Linked DNA regions of Homo sapiens: regions 2, 3, 4 and 5 are each reported to be linked to region 1. The links are microRNA targets in miRTarBase. Many come from high-throughput screens and were not tested one by one. Region 1 holds a microRNA gene; each other region holds the end of a gene's coding sequence.

Region 1 (4,151 bases):
GAGGCCGAGGTGGGTAGACAGCTTGAGCCCAGGAGTTCAAGACCAGCATGGGCAACATAGTGAGACTCTATCTCTAAAAATAAGAATAACTTTTAAAATAATAAAAATACATTAATTGGCCGGGCACGGTGGCTCACACCTGTATTCCCAGCATTTTGGGAGGCCAAGGCGGGTGGATCACGAGGTCAGGAGATCGCGACCATCCTGGCTAACATGGTGAAACCCCTTCTCTACTAAAAATACAAAAAAATTAGTTGGGCATGGTGGTGCGCACCTGTAGTCCCAGCTACTCAGGAGGCTGAGGCAGGAGAATGGCATGAACCTGAGAGGCAGAGCTTGCAGTGAGCCGAGATCAGGCCACTGCACTCCAGCCTGGGCTACAGAGCAAGACTCCGTCAAAAAAAAAAAAATACCACATTAATTATGGTGCTGGTTTTAGCATATGTCCACAAATTCTTTGAAACCCCTCCCTGTAGGAGGCAGGGCCTAATCTCCCTCCCCTGAGTGACTCACTTCTAATGAATAGACGGTAAGCTTGTCCAACCCGTGGCCCAGGACAGCTTTGAATGTGGCCCAACACAAATTCATAAACTTTCTTAAAACATTATGATATTTATGCACAGACCTTTTTTTTTTTTTTTCTTTTGAGACAGAGTTTCCCTCTGTCACCCAGGCTGGAGTGCAGTGGTGCAATCTCGGCTTACTGCAAACTCCTCCTCCTGGATTCACACCATTCTCCTGCCTCAGCCTCCTGAGTAGCTGGGACTACAGGCGCCCACCACCACGCCCGGCTAATTTTTTCTATTTTTAGTAGAGATGGGGTTTCACTGTGTTAGCCAGGATGGTCTCGATCTCCTGACCTCGTGACCCACCCGCCTCGGCCTCCCAAAGTGTTGGGATTACAGGTGTGAGCCACCGCACCCGGTCCTTTTTTTTTTTTTTTTTTTTTTTTTTTTTTTTAGCTCAACAGCTGTCATAGTGTTAATGATGTATTTTATGTGTTGCCCAAGACAATTCTTCTTCCAATGTGTCCCAGGGCAGCCAAAAGATTGGACACCCCTGGAACAGAGTATGGAAAGGGAAATTAGCAGCTTACGGTGGGTAACTCTGGTAGACAACGCCTTAACCAAGTGATCAAGGTTAACTTCACCAGTGAGCAATCAGGTAGATATCATGTGCCCCCTAATATTATGTGATGAGAAGGCCATTTCACCTCTGGGGTATTCTTTCCCCAAACCCCAACTGCAGTCTAATGATCAGAAAACATCAGACAAATCCAGATTGAGGGACATCCTACAAAATACTTGACCAGCCCACTTCATAAATGTCAAAGTCATAAAAAAACAAGGAGAGACAGAGAAATTGACATAGATTGAAAGTGACTATTATGATATAATAATTAAGTGCAACATTATATCCTGATTAAATCCTGGAACAGAAAAAGGACATTAGTGGAAAAAACTGGTGAAATCTGAAGAAAGTCGGGAGTTTAGTTAATACAACTGTGCCCATGTTAATTTTTGAGTTTTGATAAATGTATCATAATTAGTACGATATTAACATTGGGGGAAGGTGGATGAAGACTACGGGGGGTTCTCTGGATTTGCAACTCTTCTGTAAATCTAAAGTTAACTTTAGGGGGTATATGATGTCAACCTGATTTAGCTAAAGTTAACTTTAGATTTACAGAATAATTGCAAATCCAGAGAGAGGGAAGATTTAGGTTGGTGCAAAAGTAATTGTGGTTTTTGCCATTGAAAGTAATGGCAAAAACCACAGTTTCTTTTGCACCAACCTAATAAAATAAAAAGTTTAAAAGGAAAAAAATCTCTCAAATGAAGACGTAGGTCCACACAAGGACTTGTATGTGAATGTTCATTGCAACTTTACTCAAAATCATCCAAAACTGGAAGTAACCCAAATGTCCATCAACTGGTAAATGAATAAACAGACTGTGGTATATCCATTCAGGGGAATGCTACTATGCAATAAAAAGGAACAAACTATTGATACATCCAATAATATGGATGAATTTCTTTTTTTTTTTTTTTTACATTTTTTTTTTTTACATTTTTTTTTTAATTTATTTTTTTATTGATAATTCTTGGGTGTTTCTCACAGAGGGGGATTTGGCAGGGTCATGGGACAATAGTGGAGGGAAGGTCAGCAGATAAACAAGTGAACAAAGGTCTCTGGTTTTCCTAGGCAGAGGACCCTGCGGCCTTCCGCAGTGTTTGTGTCCCTGATTACTTGAGATTAGGGATTGGTGATGACTCTTAACGAGCATGCTGCCTTCAAGCATCTGTTTAACAAAGCACATCTTGCACCGCCCTTAATCCATTTAACCCTGAGTGGACACAGCACATGTTTCAGAGAGCACAGGGTTGGGGGTAAGGTCACAGATCAACAGGATCCCAAGGCAGAGGAATTTTTCTTAGTGCAGAACAAAATGAAAAGTCTCCCATGTCTACTTCTTTCTACACAGACACGGCAACCATCCGATTTCTCAATCTTTTCCCCACCTTTCCCGCCTTTCTATTCCACAAAGCCGCCATTGTCATCCTGGCCTGTTCTCAATGAGCTGTTGGGTACACCTCCCAGACGGGGTGGTGGCCGGGCAGAGGGGCTCCTCACTTCCCAGTAGGGGCGGCCGGGCAGAGGTGCCCCTCACCTCCCGGACGGGGCGGCTGGCCGGGCAGGGGGGCTGACCCCCCCCACCTCCCTCCCGGACGGGGAATATGGATGAATTTCAAAAACATTGTGTTGAGCAAAAGAAGTGAGACACAAGAGACTACATCTGTATGACTGCATCTATAGGAAACTTTAAGAAAGGCAAGACTTTAGTGCAAAAGCAGATCAGTGCTTGTTAGGAACAGGAGTGGGGAATGTGGGGGGTAGAGAGAAGTAATTGACAGCTAAAAGTCACAAGGGAAGTTCTAGGGGTGATGAAATGTTCTGTATCTTGATGGGGCAGTGGTTACATGACTACAGTGTGTGTATATATATGTTAAAACTCATCAAGCTGTACACTTAAAGTGAGTTCTATTCTATGTTAGCTATATCACAATATGGCCAGGTGTGGTGGCTCATGCCTGTAATCCCAGCATTTTGGGAGGCCAAAGTGGGCAGATCACTCGAGGTCAGGAGCTTGAAAACAGCCTGGCCGACATGGTGAAACCCCATCTCTACTAAAAATACATAAATTAGCCAAGTGTGGTGGTGTGTGCCTATAATCCTGGCTACTTGGGAGGCTGAGGCAGGAGAATCGCTTGAACCCAGGAGGCGGAGGTTACAGTGAGCTGAGATTGCACAACTGCACTCCAGCCTGGATGACAAAACAAGATTCTGTCTCAAAAAAAAATTATATATATACATATACACACACATATATATATTATATATCACAGTAAAGCTGATTTTTAAAAAATCTCTCAGCCCCTGCTATTGCTTTGTTTTTATCCTCCTGAGCCTCTCTATAGCTATGGCACTTGAATTTCCTTCTTCCTCTTGGTGGCTTTTGTTCTGTCTTATTTCCTGATGCCCTTTCTAGGTCCCTAAACATTAGTGCAAAGAGGGCACCAGAGCAGAGGGGAACAATTCTCTCTACACTCAAGTGGAATCTCTGAGCTGAGGGACCCAGAGAGGTGGAGTAGCCAGCAGGGCCCTGATGACCCGCACCTGAACTCCCACGGGTCTGACGGCTGCTGTCACAAGAGCCTGGGGCCGCTGGTCTGAGTGTGCTGGCGATCCAGCCAGGCTCAGGACGCTGAGGAGGAGGTAACCGAGACCAGGCTTCTCCCTTGTCAACAGGCAGACAGATCCCGGGGATCTTGTTAAAACACAGAGGCTGATTCAGCAAGCTGGGCGGGGGCTGCAGATTCTGCATTTCTAATAAGCTACGGAGTGATACGGTGCTGAGGGTTGGAGGCCCACACTCTGAGCTCAAAACGGAGACCACAGGGATATGCAATGTGTGCAGAGAAGGGGGAGGATGGCACAGGCTGCAGCAGTGGGGCGGGTGCTTGGCTACACTTGGAAAGGAAGTTCTCACAGTGTCTACAGCAGGAACCCAGACAGTTTCTGAGCCATCCTGGGGCTACTACAGGGACTGGGAAAATTGCACCAGTTGGGGAACAAAAAGTAAACAATGG
Region 2 (4,137 bases), not on the chromosome of region 1:
ATTGGCTTTCTCAAACCCACCCTTTGAGAGAGGATATACTAAATCATATGGAGTTGCTTAAAGTTCCTAAGCTTTAAGCACGTTTGCAGAGTGGGAGGTGATAATGATAGGGTAGATAGGAGAATTAAATGAGATAGTACATAAATGTCTTACTTCAGTGCTCAGTGACGTTTTTATTTTCTTTAAACTATTAAGGGTTCTTGCTCAGTGAATCATCATCATTGTCAATCATCGTTACAATGCCCAAGCTGTTACCTTAAAATTCCTAAATCACCCAACTGATATTCTCATGGATCTGAACCACTGGCATTTTTGGAGTGGGGGACAGGGAGAAGTGCAGAAAAGGATCAAAAGGCTGGGTTAGGGCACAGGTTCTTTTGGGAAAGGCACATTTGGGTGCGTGCAGAGAAGAGAGCTCTGGCCACATCTTGTTCACTCTGGCACTGATGGCAATTTTCTTTCCCCTCAGCATGATGACCGTGAAGGCGAAGGCAGTGACAAGTGGGTGAGCCGGGGCCGGGGCCGAGGAGCCTTTCCTCGGGGTCGGGGCCGGTTCATGTTCCGGAAATCAAGTACCAGCCCCAAGTGGGCCCATGACAAGTTCAGTGGGGAGGAAGGGGAGATTGAAGACGACGAGAGTGGGACAGAGAACCGAGAAGAGAAGGACAATATACAGCCCACAACCGAGTAGGGGCCACCCTTGACGGGATTCCTGCCCAGGGGAGAGAGGCGCTGGGAAGATGGCTGGTGAGGAGCTTAACAGAGGAACCTCAAGAAGATTCTGAAAATCCTACCCCCACCCCCCACCAGCCGCACAGATTGTACTACCGCGAGAGGCATCCCTGGCGCTGTCTCCCACTGGACAGAGGAGGCTGGCCATGGGGCCCAGGGGTCAGGCCCAGCTTTTGAGCAGAATACAACGCATTGGGCTTTAGCTGTTTTTCTCATTTGTTGGTGTGTGGGGTGGGGGCAGGGGTAGGGCGGGAGAGCGATGCTTGGATTTTTGTTTCCTATTAGAAACCAACAGTTTTGTTCTAATTTCATTTCATTTGGAGCTAAGATGACTAATTTGATGATTTTCGATCTCTTTTCCCCTGTCCTGATTTTAAAAGCCCCCTCCTTTTTTTTTTTTTTTTTCTTTTTTTAGGCATATGTAGTAATATTAGAAACATTTAATTTGGGAAACTTTGATTCTTGAAAGAGAAAACAAAAGCATGTGAATAAACTTTGAAGTGTTCACCTCAGTTTGGGACCAAACTGCTTGGATCTTTGTAAAAACCGGTTTTGTATGTCAAGGAGGAGTTTAAGGCCTTTCCGACCACCTTGTGTTCCCCTTTTCTGCGCAGCCATGTATCACGTGGAGTTGCTCCTTACCACACCTCACGTGCCCCTGAGCCCTATTTCCTGATTTCTTCTGGGCTGGACTTCCCCGTTCTCCACCAGCAGCTCCAGTATCCCAAACTTTCTAGTCCTGCTGATCCTCCCAGCAACGGGGTGGAAACTGGAGGGCAGTGTCTGGTCTGTTTTCTAAGAAACTTATGAATTCTATTATCTTTACAAATATGAGAAAATTTTTTCAATATTTTTTATTAATCTTTTTATAAAATGAAAAGAAACTCCTATGATCGATTAAGGAAGGTGGTTATGGCTGGGTGGTTCAGGGGTTTTTTTGGGTTTCTTTTTTTTTTTCTTTGTCTTTTTAACCTTAAGCTGTTTAAGTTGAAGCATTCTCAGATGTTTGGGGGGAAACATCCTCTTAAAATGGGTCCTTGTGCTTGCCTTCTGGGGAGGCGGTCCTGAGCAGGTGAATCATAAGGCATTTATGCATATGTTATATGCGGACTGCACCCACCTCTCCCCCCCAGCCTTTGCCTCTTGCGTTGTTGTGCTGCTTTCCCCTTACTTTGCTACATTTCTATAGTTAAGTTGGTTTTACTTGAATGATTCATGTTTAGGGGGAAAATGAAAATCTCCCTTAAAATTTGTTTCAACTCCTCCTGCAAATAAAATAAATGAAGTGGCAGATGTAAACGGGTTCTGTTCATTGTCATCCTGAGTGTGTGTGTGTGTTGAGGGTGGTAGATAACTTCCCACGGCAGTTTCAGAAAACCTGAAAGACAAAGGGCCTGTGGGGCCTTGCGCAGGCTGCTGGAGTCCCAGACAGACACAGTCCTTCCTGGGAGGAGCATTGTGTACCTTGGACACCCCAGGAGAAACAGATTTTTTCCACTGGTGTCATAGGCAAGGACTTTGGCTTCCTTCATCATGGTGGTGGGGCAGGGATCAAGGGATGTGGTTAGTAGGCTCAGCCTTCTACCTGAAAGAGCCTATCCCACATGGACTGGCCATAGGGTGGGCCCTAACCTTCAGACTCCTGCCGGCTGGGGACTCAACTGTGAGCAGAAATCTTGGAAGCTGGTAAAATTCATTCTCCCGGCCTAACTCCCAGGGAAAACCTGGAGGTGTTTTCTGAAACCAAACTAGACCTCTGGCCCCAAAGCAGGGGTCTTTGCTGTGTCCTTCCTATATGGGGGTAGAGAGTGGGTACGGGGCCAGAGAGGAGTACGCCTTGAAGGAAAGCAGACTGGAAGTGTCCACTCAAAGCTATTGCTGGTACAAGGGCAGCCACTTCATTCACTCAAGGCCGGTTTAGAGCGGTTGCTACTTGCTGGGGGGCCCCACCCTGGTATGTGCCTCTCCCCACCTTTTCCCCTCAAGCCAAAAGCTTGTGAGCTGGGGAAGGGTGGGCCTGGAAAGGCTCTGTGCAAATTGTAGCTGGGAGCCTCCGGGCAAAAGCTGAGGGAAAGGGAGAGGCGGCTGGCCTAAAATTTAGGTGGGCGGAAGAACCTGTGACGGAGCTGTGACCGCTGCACAGGCCAGAGACCCTGGAGTCCTCCTCACCCCGGGGTTGGGGGCCGGACCTGCTGAGCCGGGCCGCCCCCTCTCCACACCCACTCCCAGCACCTGGCCCGACCTATCGGCTGGCGGCTACGCCTCCTTTACCCTACTGTCTTGCCTCAGGTCGCACCCTGCGCGGGCCCAGTACTCGGCCGTCAGAGGGAGCTGCCAGGCTCTGGAGGGCGCCCCGGAAACCATGGGTAAGTGCGGAGGCTTTGAGGTGGCCTCTCTCTGCAACCGTGGACATAGCAAGAGCCCACACCACCCCCCGACCCCCGCTGCCCTCTACGGTGCTTGGGGACACGCCCGCCCTAGCCAGGCTGCCCGGCTGGGCCTTTCTGAGCCGCACGCCGGCCCCGTCTTCCGCCCGCAGAAGTCCTCGTCCTGGCCGGATACCGCGCGCAGAAGGAGGACGAGCTGAGTCTGGCGCCCGGGGACGTGGTCCGGCAGGTGCGCTGGGTGCCCGCGCGGGGCTGGCTTCGCGGAGAGTTTGGGGGCCGCTATGGCCTCTTCCCCGAGCGCCTGGTGCAGGTGAGGCCGAGCCAGGGGCGGGCTGTGGGGTCTCAGCGCGCGCCCCCCGGGAGCTGAGAGCGCCTTCCCCGTGCCCTGATTCCCAGGAGATCCCAGAGACCCTGCGGGGCTCCGGAGAGGCGCGGAGGCCGCGCTGTGCGCGCCGCCGAGGTGAGCGCAAGGGCGGGGACGGGCGCCGGTGGGCGGGTGCACGGAGCCAGTGCGACCCCGGCGTCTCCGGCTCTTAGTGACGGGCGCGGCTCTGGGCGGGACCTCGGGGCCGCCCTGCGGTCTGTGATTGGTTCTCGAGTGCAATGCTCCGCCCTGGGGCGGGGCTGGAGGGACCAAAGGCTACGTGCGCGCCTTGCGCTTCCCCCAGCTCCTCTGACTGGGGCGTCCGACTGGAGCTCAGCCGCGCTTGTCCGGTGCTAGGTCATCCTGCCAAACACCCGAGGCCCCAAAGATGGTGCAAAGTGAACTTCAGCTACAGCCCAGAGCAGGCGGACGAGCTGAAGCTGCAAGCTGGGGAGATCGTGGAAATGATAAAGGAGGTGAGGGGTGAGGTGATGGGACCGTTTGGGGGAGGATGATGGAACGCGCCTCCCTAGTGAGCGGGGTGGGAAGTGAGGGTGTGGACGGTGGGAATGGCGACGGTGCAGATACGGGGAAGCGCGGGAGGGAAGGAGGGAGGAAGGGGCGCTTGGGCAGAACCAAGGGTGGCAGATTATC
Region 3 (4,000 bases), not on the chromosome of region 1:
ACCCGGTACCTTCTCTCAGGCCAACAACCAAATGAAGCCAGGAATAACAGGCTTTAGCAACAGGAAATGCAATGTCAGTGGGAACCAAAGCTACGGGGATGGGTAAAATAGGGCAGAGGAAAACATCTTACAAACTTATTATGCAAAGTAGAAGAAAAAACTAGAAAAGCAGCCAAAGATTTTACCTTTTTTCTCCCTCAATGTCCTGATGAGGTTCCAGAAGAATAGAGAGGGTGAACTCTTAAAAATTGCCTTGTTACTTACCATCTCAAAAACGTACCATCAACCGTACTCAAACTGAATGTCTGGCTCCATTCTGACCAGCAAATCTAAATCCCTATTATTCTTGGATACAATCTCCCTTCTTCTCTGGTCAGGTTTATGTCTTGGATGTTCTCAAAACGTACACAAAAGTCTGCAGTATAGTAAAACCTTGGGTAAAAAGTGTGATGCTATGTGGCTTTGTTTACAATGGAACTTCTCTAAACAATTTCATCCAGAAAAATCTACTTCACATGGGGTTCTAATTGTTATTGTCAGAGCTCTTTGAATCAGAGCAACTCCATCTTCAACAGGGACTGGGTAAAATGAGACTGAGACCTATTGGACTGCATTCCCAGGAGGTTAGGCATTCTAAGTCACAGGATAAGACAGGAGGTCAGCACAAGATACATGTCATAAAGACCTTGCTGATAAAACAGGCTGCAGTAAAGAAGCTGGCTAAACCCCACCAAAACCAAGATGGTGAGGAGAGTGACCTCTGGCCGTCAGATGTGAGATTTGTTTCTGTGCTCAGAGAGCTTATATATACTCTGTGCATTTATATATACCCTATCTGTTCAAAGAAGAAATTTAAGTTAGCTCAACTTAAACTACAGGACAATCCAGCTTTGTTCATATTTACCAATCTTCCTTTGATTTTTCACATAGTAGGTAGCTGAAAAACGAGACAATGGTCACCAGCATTTGGTTTACTTGGTAGTTTTATAGAAAATTGTAAATTCACAAGTTGGCATTCAAATATTTATCATTCTTTGAGTTTGAAGAGAATATGCCAAGTTTGCCAAGCATCCCATGAACCTAGATGAGTCCAGCACCGAAGTCTTAGACTATAAAAGAGAACAGGCACTGGAACTAGGCAAGCAATAGAGGGATAACCACTGAGGCTCAGATGAAAAAAGTCTTCAGCAGTGTCATTTCAAACCAAAATATAGGAGGGAAGCCTCACAAAAAACCCTTTTCCAGATGGCTGGGAAATCTTTGCCATAGCGTACAACAGGCTGATTTCAGCAGCTTGTGGTGATAAAATAGATACAATTCAAGCAAATATTCTGCTAAGGGAGGTTAAGAAGGGGGCGGAAGGGGGAGAGGGAGTGTCTCTGGCAGACTTGGTTAAGGAGGGTTGACTTCCTCCCGACTATACAAGTAACCAAGGCCTTTAGATAGTTAAGGGGTTAAGAATTTTTTAAAAAAGTCTAAGCTAAGGAATCAATGGGATAGCAGGGGCAGGATGAGAGAGTTAATAAATTAAAAGCAAGAATGTTTCAATCTATTTGCATTACAAATAGAATGGAATGCAGCTAAATATTCCTCAAAAAGGTGGGAATTTGAACTGGCCTTGGATGGAGTACTTGAAGCATAAAAACTCCCTCTGGTTTTCTTTTGGGAACCAGGATAAAAGCCTCTCCCACAAGTTTGTAGCTAGGCCAGCTAAGGAGAGGAAAGCAGCATTTCAAGATAACGCAATGTGAAATATTACCAAGTTTAAGGCAGGGATTCTTTCATTTCTACTTCTGCCTAGTGACTACAACTGTACTTGGGCCTTGCTTTCTGAGTGACAGGTACAGAAGACAACTACATTTTTCCCTTTGAAACATGGGTAGTCTTTGAGTGAAGAGCAGTATGATCCATAGACATTGCTCACGCTTTAAAAAGCTGTTCTTTGCAAATCTGTGGATATTCAGAGTCTATAAATAGTTGAAGGTAGAAACCAATTTTAGAAACCCTAAACATTCTCAACATAAGATCAAATACAGCTGAATATCTTACCTTGAGAACCAAGGCTGAAGCGATGAATCAAAAAGGAGAGACTCAGACAATTTTAGAACAAAACAGGTATATTTCTATTAGACTACCTGATACAGAAGATAGTGTGGTATGGATGGATAGTATGAAGGACAAATAATACAAATATATTTTATTGAAATAAACAAAAATGCATACACAGCTCAATGGGTCACCTGGAACAAACTTGCTTGACTATATTACTGAGCAGAAACAAAACGGAAGCACAAACACCTTTCTTTTTTTGACATGTATCTGGAGATAGGTAGGAAGACACTACTTGGTTTTTTAAAAAACTGACCTTCCCTTAAGGCCTGGTCATAGAAGTGTAAACAATGTAAATGAATCCACCATTACCAGTTGTCATATCATATCTATGTCACCTGTGTATTCTGAGATTACACACATACCTGCCAATATACCTGGGAAAGGTTATTTTATCACAGTTACACTTGAGTTCTTGGCAGGCAGGACTGAGGAAGAGTAATTTGAAAGAAGTTTTACATCCTATTTAGAAGAAATCACTAGTATTTCCTTAAATAACAGGTTACAATAGAAAGATACTGCCTGGAAGTTATCCTTTCACTTTGGTTCATTTTTAGTTTTTCTTTATGATTTACATAGCTGTTTAATTCATTTGCTTATAGTACAATCCTGCCATAAAGTATTAAAGCACAAGATACCTATTATTCCTTCAACATCTGCATTTTTCAAGTTTTATACTCTACATCCACAGTACGTCAGCAGTTCTTGAATGTTTAAAAAAATAAATGGGTAAAATGCTTCTAAAAAATGCAGATGTTTATAACTACAATGGTACTAAGATGGGAAGGAGACAATGAGAGAAGGGATAAAAGCAAACATGTTCATGTGCAGGGAATGTGGTTCAAGTCTTTGGATTTAAAAACAAGTTCCCCAGAGAAGCTGGCACTTCCTTTGCCCTCCAAAAAGGACCTGAAAAGTCCCAATCCAAACTTTAGAAAATTAGTTATGAGATGCAATAAATGATGATCAAAGCAGTCAGAGGGAGAAGGATGAATGTGTCTTCCATTTAGCTAGAGACTGTAGCATAGCCTCTTTAGGTGTTGGTGGATCAGTAAAAACGACTGAAGTACCAGAAGTGCTTGGAAGGATAGGGGTACAAAGTAATGACCATAATACCTTGTCTAAATCAGTAGCAGGGCTTCATGGCTAGGAAACTTTTTTAAACAGTAAAATGTCATTAGGATAGATCACTCTCTCACCAACATTAAATGTGGCAGAATTAACCAAAAAAAAAAAAAAAAAAAGAAAAAAAGATTTACACGTAGATATAGCAGTAACAGAAAATTACAAGGCAGAGAACACAAAAGAATCAAGACAACGCTATAGGTTCAACAGTATTCCATGAGGCTAGAAAACCGGTTAACTTTGAAAGCCCTAGCAAAATATCACTCTTGTTTATAAATCACTTATTTATCATATGACCACACGTTGAATCCTTGTCTTTCCACATACTGAAGAATCCTACATTCAGCCTTTAAGCATTCTGCATTTCTTTGCCAATCTTGTAGCTGAGTATCTTGTTCCAGTCGATTTTGGTGCGGGTAACTGGAAGCTGCCGGCGCAAGGCCTTGAATGTGGTATCTGACATTGTTTGATAGTTTTCACTAATTGCTGTCTGCAATAGATAATTGAAGATGAGTTGCTTGAACAGAAATGGGGCTGGTTGTGAACAGAAAAGTAATGCTATAGTCAATGGATATGCTTGAGTCCCCTGTGAAGGATAGACAGGATATATTATTTTCAATGAGCTCCTCTCCAATCTCTGAAGTAGGTCAAGAAGTTCACCTATATTATTTCTAAAATGAGGGCTACAGTCCCAAGCAATCCTCAAACCCTGACTGTAAGCAGAATGCCAACTTGGAAGGTCTGCAAAGTCTCCCACATTTAGTAA
Region 4 (4,151 bases), not on the chromosome of region 1:
TTGCATCAATTTAATGGTACTTACAGCTGTACCAATTAATATATTTAAGCATATATGCCTAAAAACAAGTATACTTTTTTGAAATAAAAATTCATAACTAGCCCCACTGTCTTGTGACTAAAATTATTACAAAATGGGTCATTCTTCATGACGGTATATTTGGAATATAATTCTGATGTGTAAGGTATATCCACTCACTGTACCAACAGTCTGGTAGGTTTCATCCCGCTAAGATCTTTCAGACTCAGTTTTCAGGTATAGCAGTAACCTTCATTTATTATGTGAAGATAACACTCAACATAAACCATCTGTAACATTCTTAGCAGCCCATTACAATGACAGGAATTGAATCTGTCATGTAAATTTTAGACTCTAAAGCAAGCTTGTCCAACCCACAGCCCATGAGCCGCATGCGGCCCAGAATGGCTTTGAATGCAGTACAATACAAATTTGTAAACTTTTAAAAAACATTATGAGATTTTTTTTTGCTATTTTTTCTTTAGTTCATCAGCTATTGTTAGTCTTAGCACATTTTATGTGTGGCCCAAGACAATTCTTCTTCCAATGTGGCCCAGGGAAGCCAAAAGATTGGACACCCCTGCTCTAAAGATTCAAAGCAGTAAGATTAATATTCCTTTTTTTTTTTTTTTACCTTTTAGAAAACGTTTCTCATTCAAAAACAGAAAATGATGTCCTGAAGATGTCCTTAGTTTAATGCATGTTGATAAAACTACTTTTTAGGATTTGTGTAATCTCTGTTATCACCCTTGTCTATTCCAATTCTTAAGCTTCTCCAAAATGGCAAAGTTATGAAAATGCGTAAGAACTGTTTCTGTACATTAAGTATTAAGTAAAATAAAAAATGGAAGACTTTAGGGGAAAAAATCATAGATACCCAGACATTTTACTGTATTCATTTTTATTTTTATATTTTTGTTTATATTAGGATATTATACAATTTTCAAAGCTAATAACAGAAATCTTTTTGTATGTATATTTAAAGCATAACAAAATAAAAGTATTTCACAAAAGATGTCCATATTACAGTACTATTGAAATATGAGGCACAGGGTAAGTATGCATTTGTGGGTTAAAAACATAATACATTCATTTTAAAGAATAAACATTTAATGTGAGTAACATTTTGGTTAAAATAAATATCATAGTAAATGTTAACAGCAACACCTGAAGTATATGGATACAAGAAAGGTGTTTTGTAATAGATACTATGTTGAATGGTAAAGCATTCATGAAATGGCTGTAATATCTTACTAAATTTACAATCATTGCACATTGTTGAGCACTTTATTTATATAGAGATACCCTTCATCCACCATTCCTAAACCTTACCATACAAAACAAAGTTACTCCATATTTTCACCTGGGTAACTGGTACCAATGTCTAAATAAGGTTTAGAATAGATATAGCTTTCATTTTACTGCTCCTCAAATCAATTCAAAAGTTTAACTTAATCAATATAAAATTTACTTATGAACACATATAAAGAACATTTTATAGGTGACTATATAAATTAGAGCTTCAAATCATCTTCATAGTTCTTTGAAATTATTCCATTCAAAATTAAAATTTGATTTTTACACAGTGGTTTCTTCAGGAAAAATATGAACATTTAGATTTAAAAAGATACAATATTCGAAGCAAAAAGTTTCCACATATAGAAATAATGAATTTCCCTGATCATTAAATTCTTCCCAGCTATTTCCTTCTAGCAGATATATTCACTGAGAAGAAAAGCTTTAATCTTTACTTAAAAGTTACTTTGAGGGGTCAAGCTAATGAATTTTAGATCTATGTATTCTTAAAGATTGCAAGAAAAAAAAGAGAGTATCTGTTCCAACCAGAGAACATTTCATCTCAATTATATTACATTAAAATGAACATGACATTAATGGTCAATAAGAATAATTCTTCTCATACTTCTAGGAATATATCTATGGATGCTCAGTATAAATGTTAAAAGTCATTAAGAGTGTGAGAAAAAAAATGCATCTAGCCCTCAGGAAAAACAAACAAAACAGGTTTCCTTTACCTATTCCAAAATAAAATTACCCTTCAGAAACCATACATAACTGATTAGATTTCAGAAAACAAGGGTTCAGACTTTTTGCCCTTTATACATTTTTTAAGTTTACAAATGCTTGAAAGCATTCAAATGAGTGTAAGAAAAACACATATGAAAAACAAAACCAGCAGTTACATCGGCTAAAGGGAAGTGTTCTTTGAACATGAGGTTTTCACGTTGGCAGGATAATTCATCCAAGGTTGTAAGATGGCACAGAGTCCTTTAACAGTGACTTCCTCTTGGCCTTCAGGCTTCACAATTCTGTGAGAAACTGGTCGCCACTAATACGAAAGCATTCAGGGAAAACACATCTGCACAACAGCATTTACGAAATTCTGCCCATTTCCTTAAGCTACACGAAGTGTTACCATCTCAGTCATCTTCATGAACAAATACAGTACTTTACTCAAAAGCTTCTCAATAGAAATGTTAATCTCATAACAGTTCTGGCTGTAGTCATGGCCAGTTTTCATTTTATTAAGCATATTCTAGAATTACAACCTTGTCAAATAAATTGTAACTGTATCAACATTCACAGGTACAGTATAACACACATCCTTTCTTCCTCTTTAACAAGACCAAACATATGCATACAGAGTGGCCCAAATTTTAAAAAGTTTAAAAAAAGTTTTCAATCCAGGAAAAGTATTGGTATACCAAATATCTTTTAAAAGGGTATTATACTCTCAGAAAGTATGAAACATTAATGGATAAAATGCACATACAATATAAATAAGAAAGTAACTTGAAGAATAATATAAAAAAATTTCTGAAGGGGACCGATCAGAACTTCAATAAAACTTATGAATAAAAACTTAGGCTTATATTATAGTGTACAATTATGAGTTAAAATGCACTTAAATTTATAAAGAAATTGAAATATAGTACTGCAAGGTTATTCAAAGAATATTTTTCAAATGTACAAACAACAATAAAAACACACAAAAAAAGCCTTGGGCAATGTGCAACTTTAAAAATTATTATCACACCAGCTAAACAAATCCTTAACCACTTTTTAAATGGATTCATTTATACCATTTCAATGCAAAGAGAATATCAAAAATATTAAAACAAAACAAAAAACTCTTCAGTGTCTGACTCACATTTTGTCCCCAAATCTTCACATTTAATAGTTACATTTTGAATGTATAAGCTAAGAGTTCTAAATGTTTCTCAAATAGTTTGTGTCTACATTTATCATAAGAATCATATTTGAAAACTACTCTGCTAAGAACTAAAACTAGTACTTCAAACGTTTAAAAATAAAATCTTCACAAAAGTTCACAATTGTGTTCATCTCAATGTCCATAAATTACTAAAAAAGAAACAAGTCACATGTTCAGATACTTTTTCTCAGGTATGAGTCTATTCTGATGTGTGCCAAGCTGCACCTTCAATATTTGGCACTGACAGTCTATCTAAACACAATTTATCAGCAGAAAACTGTAAGAAATTCTATAAACCTTTAGCCATTCAAAACCATCATGTTTCATTTTCTCTCCTAACATGCAATTCAGTTATTCCAAAGTCATTTGGGGGTTGCAAGGAGGTGATTTAGGTGACTGGTACAAAATGAAGCTTATATGAAAACTGGTTAAGGATTCAAAGCACACTAGCTCTGAAATATTAATCTTAACACCAGACATAAATGGGGAGGTATGACTTGCACAAAATACTTTCAATTACTTTGGTTACACTCTTCATGATCTTGCATGTTTAGCTGCTTGCAGTGCATGCATGCATCCTCTTTGCTACGTCATAAACATAGGTGACGTCTGGTCGCTTCTCTGGATCTGGGTTGATGCACATATTAACTAACTGTCGGAGCTGTGAAGAAAGAAAAACAATAAAACCTGATTAAGACAACTATTTTTGGTTAGTTTACTGAGAGGAAGAAATTATGAATAGCTATAGATTTTACAAGGAAAGTACATTTTCTGACTAAACATTCACTGTACTAGAAATATATATAAGACTGCTGCCAATGATCTTACAATAAGTTAAATGTTCTATGAAGTGCATTGAATGGACAGTATTAATGTCAACCAAGAAGTATTTTCCACAATC
Region 5 (4,151 bases), not on the chromosome of region 1:
AGTTTCATGATTCTCATATTCACCCGGAAAGATGACTTAGGTGACACCAATTTGCATGACTACTTAAGGGAAGCTCCAGAAGACATTCAAGACTTGATGGACATTTTCGGTGACCGCTACTGTGCGTTAAACAACAAGGCAACAGGCGCTGAGCAGGAGGCCCAGAGGGCACAGTTGCTGGGCCTGATCCAGCGCGTGGTGAGGGAGAACAAGGAAGGCTGCTACACTAATAGGATGTACCAAAGGGCGGAGGAGGAGATCCAGAAGCAAACACAAGCAATGCAAGAACTCCACAGAGTGGAGCTGGAGAGAGAGAAAGCGCGGATAAGAGAGGAGTATGAAGAGAAAATCAGAAAGCTGGAAGATAAAGTGGAGCAGGAAAAGAGAAAGAAGCAAATGGAGAAGAAACTAGCAGAACAGGAGGCTCACTATGCTGTAAGGCAGCAAAGGGCAAGAACGGAAGTGGAGAGTAAGGATGGGATACTTGAATTAATCATGACAGCGTTACAGATTGCTTCCTTTATTTTGTTACGTCTGTTCGCGGAAGATTAAACTTAATGAAAATCTGTTTGTATTTTCTGCATATTCTCTGGCAACCTTGCCCCATACTTACTTATTTAGCATAGTCGAGTGCTCTAGTTTCTGTCTCTCAGGCACTCGTAACTAAGGACCACCATTGGCCATTGGTAGATGTTTGATTGACTTAACAAGAGAGGGACAAATTTTCAATTTGTGAAACTCCAAAGCAGAAAGTATTGGTGCTTGCTACCTTGTGAATTCTTCCTTAGACATGCAGAGAAAATGTATGCAAGAGACCAAAAAGATGGCTCCAAGCTATGTCATGTTACCTGTAATAAAATCTTTTCTTCTAGATTCTTTCTATGTTGGCAGATAATCTCCCCTTGTAGCTTCCACTCACTTATTCTTGCATTCAGAGTCACAATGATCATCTTACCCATGTGGTTTTTGAGAAAGAAAGATCAATTCTTTGTTTGCAGTAGGTAATCTTAGAGATGGAGATGATTGTAGAATTATTCCTAGATGAGTGTCAATTTATTTAATTCCATTGTCATATAAGGAGTCAAATTGTTTCTTATCATTTGTTCATTGAAGAACAGAGACCTGTCTGGAAAATCGATCTCTACAAATTCAATTAAATAATGATCCCCAAATGCTGAAAAAGTGAAATACAGCAATTCAACAGATAATAGAGCAATGTTTAGTATATTCAGCTGTATCTGTAGAAACTCTTTGACGAACCTCAATTTAACCAATTTGATGAATACCCAGTTCTCTTCTTTTCTAGAGAAAGATAGTTGCAACCTCACCTCCCTCACTCAACACTTTGAATACTTATTGTTTGGCAGGTCATCCACACACTTCTGCCCCCACTGCATTGAATTTTTTGCTTATGTTGTTTATAATAAAACTTTTCAATTATCTCATATTTGTGCAGAATTGGAACCTGTTTTGTCTTGGAAAATACTACTGCTACTTCTAATAATACAGGGATGAATTTCACTTTATGGTAAGAGTTCAAGATGATTTTGGAGCTAGACTTTGTCTACCCTCATGACATCTCCCCTTCCCCCTTTCCCTAGAAGATTTGAGCCACAATCTCAACCCATTTATCAGCCAAAGACCACAACTTCCTTGGATCTTCATTATGTGCTGATGGAAATTATGAGTAACCAAGGTTTCTGAGACCTGTGTAGTTTTGTTGGTGCAAAAATTCCCTTTACTATAGAGATAGCGATAGTTGAAGTTCCTATCCCTTTTCTACTTTTCTACTGGGCTCTCCTCACCTAATAATTTCTAGAAATCCTGAAAGCGTGTTTTCATGTTCTACCAGTATGTCCTAGAGGTCACATGTGATTATGCCAACATTCCATGTTCTGCCATCTTGAAATTGGCTTCTCCATGCCCTAAATCATTTTGCCCAAAATAGGATATACATTTCCTTTTTTTTAAATTTTATTATTATTATACTTTAAGTTTTAGGGTACATGTGCACAATGTGCAGGTTTGTTACATATGTATGCATGTGCCATGCTGGTGTGCTGCACCCATTAACTTGTCATTTAGCATTAGGTATATCGCCTAATGCTATCCCTCACCCCTCCCCCCACCCCACAACAAGCCCCGGTGTGTGATGTTCCCCACCCTGTGTCCATGTGTTCTCATTGTTCAATTCCCACCTATGAGTGAGAATATGGGGTGTTTGGTTTTTTGTCCTTGCAATAGTTTGCTGAGAATGATGGTTTCCAGTTTCATCCATGTCCCTACAAAGGACATGAACTCATCATTTTTATGGCTGCATAGTATTCCATGGTGTATATGTGCCACATTTTCTTAATCCAGTCTATCGTTGTTGGACATTTGGGTTGGTTCCAAGTCTTTGCTATTGTGAACAGTGCTGCAATAAACATACGTGTGCATGTGTCTTTATAGCAGCATGATTTATAATCCTTTGGGTATATACCTAGTAATGGGCTGGCTGGGTCAAATAGTATTTCTAGTTCAAGATCCCTGAGGAATCGCCACATTGACTTCCACGATGGTTGAACTAGTTTACAGTCCCACCAACAGTGTAAAAGTGTTCCTATTTCTCCACATCCTCTCCAGCACCTGTTGTTTCCTGACTTTTTAATGATCGCCATTCTAACTGGTGTGAGATGGTATCTCATTGTGGTTTTGATTTGCATTTCTCTGATGGCCACTGATGATGAGCATTTTTTCACGTGTTTTTTGGCTGCATAAACGTCTTCCTTTGAGAATTGTCTGTTCATATCCTTTGCCCACTTTTTGATGGGTTTGTTTTTTTCTTGTAAATTTGTTTGAGTTCATTGTAGATTTTGGATATTAGCCCTTTGTCAGATGAGTAGGTTGCAAAGATTTTCCCCCATTTTGTAGGTTGCCTGCTCACTCTGATGGTAGTTTCTTTTGCTGTGCAGAAGTTCTTTAGTTTAATTAGATCCCATTTGTAAATTTTGACTTTTGTTGCCATTGCTTTTGGTATTTTAAACATGAAGTCCTTGACCATGACTATGTCCTGAATGGTATTGCCTAAGTTTTCTTCTAGGGTTTTTATGGTTTTAGGTCTAACATGTAAGTCTTTAATCCATCTTGAATTAATTTTTGTATCAGGTGTAAGGAAAGGATCCAGTTTCAGCTTTCTATTTATGGCTAGCCAGTATTCCCAGCACCATTTATTAAATAGGGAATCATTTCCCCATTGCTTGTTTTTGTCAGGTTTGTCAAAGATCAGATGGTTGTAGATATGCAGCATTATTTCTGAGGGCTCTGTTCTGTTCCATCGATCTATATCTCTGTTTTGGTACCACTACCATGCTGTTTTGGTTACTGTAGCCTTGTAGTATAGTTTGAAGTCAGGTAACATTATGCCTCCAGCTTTGTTCTTTTGGCTGAGGATTGACTTGGTGATGCAGACTCTTTTTTGGTTCCGTATGAAGTTTAAAGTAGTTTTTTCCAATTCTGTGAAGAAAGTCATTGGTAGCTTGATGGGGATGGCATTAAATCTATAAATTACCTTGGGCAGTATGGCCATTTTCACGATATTGATTCTTCCTACCCATGAGCATGGAATGTTCTTCCATATCTTTGTGTCATCTTTTATTTCATTGAGCAGTGATTTGTAGTTCTCCTTCAAGAGGTCCTTCACATCCCTTGTAAGTCGTATTCCTAGGTATTTTATTCTCTTTGAAGCAATTGTGAATGGGAGTTCACTCATGATTTGGCTCTCTGTCTGTTATTGGTGTATAAGAATGCTTGTGATTTTTGCTCATTGATTTGGTATCCTGAGACTTTGCTGAAGTTGCCTATCAGCTTAAGGAGATTTTGGGCTGAGACGATGGGGTTTTCCAGATATACAATCATGTCATCTGCAAACAGGGACAATTTGACTTCCTCTTTTCCTAACTGAATACCCTTTATTTCCGTCTCCTGCCTGATTGCCCTGGCCAGAACTTCTAACACTATGTTGAATAGGAGTGGTGAGAGAGGGCATCCCTGCCTTGTGCCAGTTTTCAAAGGGAATGCTTCCAGTTTTTGTCCATTCAGTATGATATTGGCTGTGGGTTTGTCATAGATAGCTCTTATTACTTTGAGATACGTCCCATCAATATGTAATT

What was found. The annotated mature microRNA hsa-miR-548d-5p reads AAAAGUAAUUGUGGUUUUUGCC and lies in region 1 at 1,732-1,753, shown strand. An mRNA with a match to its seed (bases 2 to 7 or 8) in the 3' UTR can be bound and repressed. Matches are read on the target gene's strand: a 7mer-m8 pairs with bases 2 to 8, a 7mer-A1 pairs with bases 2 to 7 and ends in A, and an 8mer does both.
Region 2: the mRNA of THRAP3 is a reported target of hsa-miR-548d-5p. Seed matches in the 3' UTR shown: 7mer-m8 at 1,900-1,906.
Region 3: the mRNA of CAPZA1 is a reported target of hsa-miR-548d-5p. Seed matches in the 3' UTR shown: 7mer-m8 at 3,207-3,213 and 7mer-A1 at 2,725-2,731.
Region 4: the mRNA of NEK7 is a reported target of hsa-miR-548d-5p. Seed matches in the 3' UTR shown: 7mer-m8 at 2,822-2,828.
Region 5: miRTarBase lists GIMAP4 as a target of hsa-miR-548d-5p. The part of its 3' UTR that is shown has no 7-base or 8-base seed match.

Annotation. Positions count from the first base shown.
Region 1 is chr17:67,469,142-67,473,292 of GRCh38, reverse strand. MIR548D2 (microRNA 548d-2) reads left to right here and starts at 1,708; the gene lies at 1,708-1,804. All of the region lies in intron 1 of PITPNC1 (phosphatidylinositol transfer protein cytoplasmic 1), which reads right to left. MIR548AA2 (microRNA 548aa-2) reads right to left here and starts at 1,804; the gene lies at 1,708-1,804.
Region 2 is chr1:36,303,327-36,307,463 of GRCh38, forward strand. It overlaps THRAP3 (thyroid hormone receptor associated protein 3), which reads left to right. Exons shown (of 12, transcript NM_005119.4): 12 at 470-2,031. The coding sequence ends at 691. It overlaps SH3D21 (SH3 domain containing 21), which reads left to right and starts at 3,042. Exons shown (of 16, transcript NM_001162530.2): 1 at 3,042-3,098; 2 at 3,272-3,429; 3 at 3,516-3,579; 4 at 3,841-3,959. The coding sequence starts at 3,095. RefSeq lists silencers at 3,083-3,132, 3,353-3,792 and enhancers at 3,290-4,090, 3,893-3,942.
Region 3 is chr1:112,669,716-112,673,715 of GRCh38, reverse strand. It overlaps CAPZA1 (capping actin protein of muscle Z-line subunit alpha 1), which reads right to left. Exons shown (of 10, transcript NM_006135.3): 10 at 2,100-3,724. The coding sequence ends at 3,584. Among named protein-coding and RNA genes, the nearest start is that of MOV10, 2.9 kb to the left of the region's middle.
Region 4 is chr1:198,319,172-198,323,322 of GRCh38, reverse strand. NEK7 (NIMA related kinase 7) reads right to left here. Exons shown (of 10, transcript NM_133494.3): 10 at 903-3,911. The coding sequence ends at 3,801. Among named protein-coding and RNA genes, the nearest start is that of NEK7, 160 kb to the right of the region's middle.
Region 5 is chr7:150,572,509-150,576,659 of GRCh38, forward strand. GIMAP4 (GTPase, IMAP family member 4) reads left to right here. Exons shown (of 3, transcript NM_018326.3): 3 at 1-1,445. The coding sequence ends at 552. Among named protein-coding and RNA genes, the nearest start is that of GIMAP4, 7.2 kb to the left of the region's middle.